Homo sapiens: one gene and its partner. The protein of the gene in region 2 interacts with the protein of the main gene of each other region in a pairwise test. Each region holds a gene or a part of one and is shown on either strand. Other genes may lie near its edges.

The links.
Region 1: the proteins of NSG2 (region 2) and SUPT4H1 interact in a two-hybrid assay, tested with the Homo sapiens proteins (one large-scale study listed by BioGRID and IntAct).

What each region holds. Positions count from the first base shown.
Region 1 is NC_000017.11:58,346,748-58,349,521, forward strand, and holds part of SUPT4H1 (transcription elongation factor SPT4), read right to left. Parts: intron 838-2,774; coding exon 782-837; intron 495-781; coding exon 441-494; intron 1-440. UniProt on the Homo sapiens protein: Component of the DRB sensitivity-inducing factor complex (DSIF complex), which regulates mRNA processing and transcription elongation by RNA polymerase II.
Region 2 is NC_000005.10:174,097,706-174,101,205, forward strand, and holds part of NSG2 (neuronal vesicle trafficking-associated protein 2), read left to right. Parts: intron 1-3,500.

The DNA of each region.
Region 1 (2,774 bases), on a different chromosome or scaffold from region 2:
TTAGTTGACTCATTACTAGTGAAGACCCAGGCAGGTATTCGGTAAGAATGAGAAGAAAAAGAGGGATACATGTAGTCATCAAAAGCAAAGGTTCTAAGCCAAGCACCTGTAGTCCCAGCTACTCAGGAGGCAGAGGTGGGAGGAGCACATGAGCCCAGGAGTTAGAGTCCAGCCTGGGCAACATAGTGAGACCTTGTCTCTAAAAAAAATAAAAAACAGAAACAGCAAAAATTCTGGAGCCAGAATGCCTGGATTCCAATCCTGGCTCCTCATTTACTACCTGGTGACCTCCAGCAAGTGATTTAACCTCTCTGTGCCTGGTTCCCCCCATCTGTAAAATGCTGAACCTCATAGAATGTGAGAATTGGCATTAATTCAGATAAAAAAACTTCCACAGAGCTTTACAGTAAATGAACATTGGCTGTTATGATTATTATTACCTTGGGGCAGGCGACCAGTGACTGACACCGCATATACACCTGGCTTAAAGTTACCTGAGAGAGAAGAAAAAAGATACAAGATTACAGTGAAGTTAGTTAAGACTCAAGATCAAATGGAAGCTTAAGCTAAAGAAGTGATGCAACTCCAAGAGAAGAGCTATTCCCTCTTTTGGCTACAAGTGTTAAATGACAAGGCACAGGACACTGCTTCCCTGTGTTTCCTACAACCCGATCTTTCCCACCCTGAGGTCACTCATCTTGCTGATTTGAGACTCCCTAATGGACCTGAGGAACAGTAACAACACTACAACTAAGCCAAAAGGAGACAGGCCAACACTTACTGACTCGCTGCCACTTGGAGACCCAGCTGTCCTCTGGACTCATCATCGCAATGATTCTAGGGAGGGAAAAGAAATGGAGAGTCAGCCTGAGCCTCCCTGGGCCTGAGCTCAATTCTGAGAGAGGAATCTAGGAAAAAGCCAAGTACCGAGTCTCCACTGGAAAGCTGGCAAAACTGCCTTCTGATGTTGGGATGAGGCTGACTCAAAGCTAGGACTGACAAAAGTTCTTCATTCTTATGTCCTTGGCCGGCCAGCCACAGGTCAGTTTCCATCCCCAAAAGATTATCTCACTCAGCTCACAAACATCCTTAGCCTAACATTCCCTAGAAAATGAGACGGCTTTAGGACAAGGGGTCCAATAGTTACAACTAACACAACTACAAGGGGTCTAGGGCCTAGTGCAAAGAGGAGGGTGAGTGAAAACAACGGATCCTCCTACTAGAAAGGAGTTCAACTTGGCTAAACTTTTCCTCTTAATGACCTATACATATGGGGACCCCTCTAATGACCTATACATGTGGGGTTCCCTTCTCAGAACCTCATCAGTAAGCTGAGACTCAAAGGTTGAGATAATACATGAAAAACACCTAGCACAAAGACTAGCACAGAGTAGGTGCTAAATAAGCATTAGCTCTCCTCATTATCCTAATAGTCCTTCCCAGGTAGCTGTGATTCCAGAGGAATGGTAAGGCTATTCAAGGGCTAGAAGATGCTGCTTGAGCAAGATGGGTAAGCATTTTTGTCATTCAACGCATTCAATCAAATGCTTACTGACTGCCTATTGTGTGGGTGTAAGCACTGACATTTGTTGACTGCCTCAATATGCCTCCCCTCTTCTCTCAGTAACAATCTTGGATTCTTATTTGAGAAGATTCCCTTCCCATCCAAATCCTACATTCTCAGCCATGCGCTGTTAAGTGGAACCGACCCTACCTCCAGGGGTGACAAGCAGAACACTAGCCCCCAGCCCTGCAGCCTGATGGGAGATAGGCATGTATGCAGGCCATCCTCCTGACCACAAGTATATTCTTCTCTGTCCTTTGCAATCTATCTTTTTAGCCTTAGGGTCCCTACAGCCCAACCTTATGATTTAACCTAAACAGAATTCCCACTGTTCTCCAAAAACATCCTGGTTTTTCCCATCCTAAGCCTTTGCTCTAGTCACTCCCTTTATTTGGAATGTTCTCTCTCTCTCTCACCTCAACTTCCTCAAAAATCCCAAACTTCTTGCCTTAAGAGGAAAGTACTACCTCTTCCAATTCTGGTTGAGGTCATCTAGCCCTCTTCCGATCTTTAATTTGCCCACTCTTTAAGACCTAATATGCACTAGAATTATACAAATAATTCCTACAACCTAACAACAAAAAAACCAAACTGAAGTCAAAAATGAGCAAAGGCCTTGAATAGGCATTTCTCCAAAGATATACAAATGGCTATAAGCACCTAAGAGGCTCAACATCACCATTCATTGGGGGAAATGGGACACCAAAGTCACACCCATCAGGATGGCTATTATTAATAAATAATTAAGTGTTGGTGAGGATGGGGAGAAATTAGAACCTTTGGGCACTGTTGGTGGGAATGGAAAATGGTGCAGTTGCTAAACAGTATGACAGTTCCTCAAAAAATTAAACACTGAACTATCATATGATCTAGCAATTTCACTTGTGGATATACAGATGATCCCTGACTTACCTTAGTTCAACTTATGATTTTTCAAATTTATGATTTTGCAAAAGTGACATGCATTCAATAGAAATCGTTTTCAAATTTTAAATTTTGTTCTTTTCCAGGCTAGCAATTCAGTACAATATTCTGTCATGATGCTGCGCAGCAGCCATGAGCCACAGCTTCTGGTCAGCCACAGTAACATAAGCGTTCTGAGCACATTTGAAGTAGGCTAACTTATTATATTCAGTAGGTTGGGTGTGTTAAATGCACTTTTGGCTTATATTTTCAACTTATGATGGGCTTATTAGGTTGTAACTCCTCG
Region 2 (3,500 bases):
TTTGTGTGTGTTTGTCTCTGTGTGTGTCTCTGTGTCTGTGTGTGTGTCTGTGTCTCTGTGTGTGTACCTTTCTCTCAGTGTGTGTGTCTCTGTGTGTGTGTGTAACTGTGTGTGTGAGTGTGTCTCTTTGTGTGTGTCTGTGTGTGTGTGTGTGTGTGTATGAGTGTCTGTGTGTCTGTCTCTCTGGTCTTAATTCAACTCAACACTGCAGGTCAGGAAATGTTTCTGATCCCCACTTTGTATGAGTCACTACTGGGCACAGAGAAAAGGGTGCGACTCGCTTGCTGCCCGAGGCCTTCCCAGCAGAAGGTGGCTGGTAGGCGAGAGGGGTGATGGGGATGCAGTGTGCTCCTATGGAGGAGGAACTGGAGCAGGCCCCAGCTACACAGCAGGGATGGATTAGGGGTTCAGGGCTGGAGCTGAATGCTGAGGAGATGTTCTCCTTGCTGAGGAAAGGCACACAGGGGCTCCAGGCCTGGCCCAAGGCCCAGAGAAGCAACTGCAGGAGCTGTCAGGGTGCTGGGGCTGGAGGGGACAGTGTGAACCAGTGGGGAGAGGTACATGAGACTGGAGGGTGGTTGAGGGGGTGCAGGCTGAGCAAAGATGTTACCCCGACAGCACCAGGGCTGCCTCTGTGGGGAGCTACTGTCTTGGGCAGGACAAGGGTGATATTGGCCTCCAAAGCCCTAGGGGGCTGGACCCTGCTTTCCTTCCAGCCTCACCTCAGCGTTCTCTCCTTGTCCCCTTCGTCACAGCCAGACTGCTTCTTCCAGGCCCTCTGGAACCTCGAGCTCCTCTTCCTTGTAGGATCTCTGGGCGTCCTAGAATGCTGCAATGCTCTGGCCCGGGGTTGCCTGGAGCCCAGTCCCCTCTCGCTTCCAGGACCACCCCGTCAAAGGGCCCCCCTCGTGTGCTCTGTTCAGACCACATTCAGTGCTTGGTTTGTGGTTATTTCTTTGGTGAATTGCTCATTGAATGTCTCACTCTCTCCCTCCTGTGAACTCCTTGAGGCAATGGCTGTGCACAGCATCCGGCTCACAGTAGGCCCTTTAGTAGACTCTCAGTGAGCGGACGATGAGTGGCTGAGTGAGTGGATGAGGGGAGACGGGTGCAGAGAGGGTGATTCCGTGGTGAGGACTGTGCCTGTAATGAAACCCTCCAATGTAGCGCTGGAGAACTAGCGAGCTGTTTATCGCGAGGCTCAGGTTGTTAAATTCAAGAAGTGAAACCAAGGGCTTTAGAACGTCTCTGAGGATGGAGGTTATATAAACCGAGTCAATAAATATTGATGTGGAGTCCGGCTTTCATGTTCAGAGGTGCTTTGTGGGGAGGTGGGAGTTTCTCTCCCCGACCCTCTTAGGCTCACCCGGCATGGCGGGAGCTTTGTTGCAGGGATCAGGCACGTAGGCCCCTGAATTTCACAAATCCACCAGAAAGGGAGGCCGGGGAGGCTGGGTCCAGCAGGATGCCTCGCAGAACTGAAACCTGCCTGTAGGAAATCTCGCCCTGGAACCAAACCAGGACTCTCCAGCTCCCGCCCCACCCCAGCAACCATTGACAACTGCATCATCCAGAATCCAGAAAGCTCACCAGTGGAACTCGCCGGCCTGAGCCGGCCCTTCCTCCTCTTGTCTCGCAGTGCTGTGCTCACCTCTTATGCCATCTTAGGCCATTGACTCCACCCCACTGCCCCGTCTGGCCTCAGCACCTGGGACACGCCCTACTACATCAGCCTTCCCACTGGCCCCCTTGCCTTCAGCCATCCCCCTGCAAACATGCCTCCTGTTGCCCCCAGAGACATCACTCCAAAACATAATTCTCACCTTGTCGCTTCCCTGCTTAGAACTGTCACTGGCTCCCTGTTGTCCTTGAGATCAAGTCCAAGTGTAATCTGTTCTTTGCCCCCTGCCCAGGCCCCCAGGCTTCCCCATCACTCACACCCCTTGGGCCAGCCATGCCAAGGCCTGTGATGCCTCTAGAACAGCCTGTGTGCTCTCCACGTTCTTTCCAGGGCTGATGCCATTTCCTCTGCTCAGAGCCTTCTTCCCCTCATCCTAATGTTCTTCCATGAAGTCACTTATGATGTCACATCCCCCAGGAGGACGTCCCTGATGCCCCCGCCCCCAGGTTGATTAGGTCCAGCAGCCCCCTGTGCTGATGGCCTCAGTCATGGTGTCACCTCTGCGTTGCAAGTGTCTACACCCATCAGTCCATCTCTTCCTCCCCCTGTAGACTGTGAGGTCTCAAGAAAGAGCCTGTGCCTGATTCACCACAACGTACTCTCTGACCTCCCCAGACTCTTAGGGAATGATTGGCCTTCAGTTGCAGAAGTTACCAAAATTCAGGACAGGGAGGCAAACTCTCCTTCAGCTAAGACAGCCTCCATTGAGCCTAATTCTGGGGTCATGGAGCATGTGGGGTGGCCTGGCAGAAGTTAGCCCTGCTTGGGCAGAATCCCATGGGCTGGGCTGCACCCGTAGCAACCAGTCAGCATTAGACCCTTGACTCTGACAGTCACGGAGGACACCCCAGCAAGTGTCAGCACACAGGACTGCTTGCATGTGGGGAACCACGTGGGGGCTTCGAAACATGCTGAGGCCTGGACTGCACCCCCAGAGATTCTGGTGTAGTTGGTTTGAGATAGGGCTAGAGCTCCAGGATCATTTGAAACGTTTGAATCCCAGGGGATTCTAACATGTGCAGCTGCTTGAGAACCACTCACAGCTAGTCCTACTAGAGCAGCGCTTCTCTTCCTGGTTACACACGGTAATTACCTGGACAGCCTTGTCCTGGACCCATGGAATTAGAATCCATGGGGGTGGTGACAACCTAGGCATCAGCATTTCCGAGCTCCTCAGCTGCTTCTAATGTGAAGCAGGGTTTGAAACCACTACCTCCAACGTACCTCCCTCCCTCCCTTTTCTTTTTCCAGAAGCATTTGCTGGAGGCCTGCTCTGTGCTCGTGCTCTCTAGCCCTGGTGGTGCTTTGGTGAATCAGCCCCTGCAGTTCCTATTTGGGATTTCTTAACTCAGGGGACGTTAGCAGTGGAAGAGCTCACCCTGTAAAGGGAACCTGTCCCACAGGCAGGCTTGCTGGGTCCTGCACCAGCTCCTAGTGCCCCTTTACTAACCTGCTGTTGGCCAGGGGCCTTATCCAGCCCTGTCTGGGCACGTCCATACCCATGTTGGGAGGTCTTGCCCAGCTCCTGAGTCTCTCAAGAGGCCTGGGACTCTGCCTAGGCAAGGTTTGGGGTTGCACATGGTCATTGGGATGGGAAGCTTTCCAGCAGCTCCCTCAGACCCTGCATCAGGCTGGAGGCAATGGCAGGCTGGGGCTGAGGCTCTGAACTCCCTCCTGAGCATGCACGAGCTCGACAGCTGCACTGTAGTCTGTGGATGAGCCTGCGACTATAGGCAACTCTCTTGGCTGGGCCCAGGTGTGTTCTCTTTGAGGGGAGGGGATGCCAGCAGGATTTTAATATCCCTTTAACAGAAAGGGT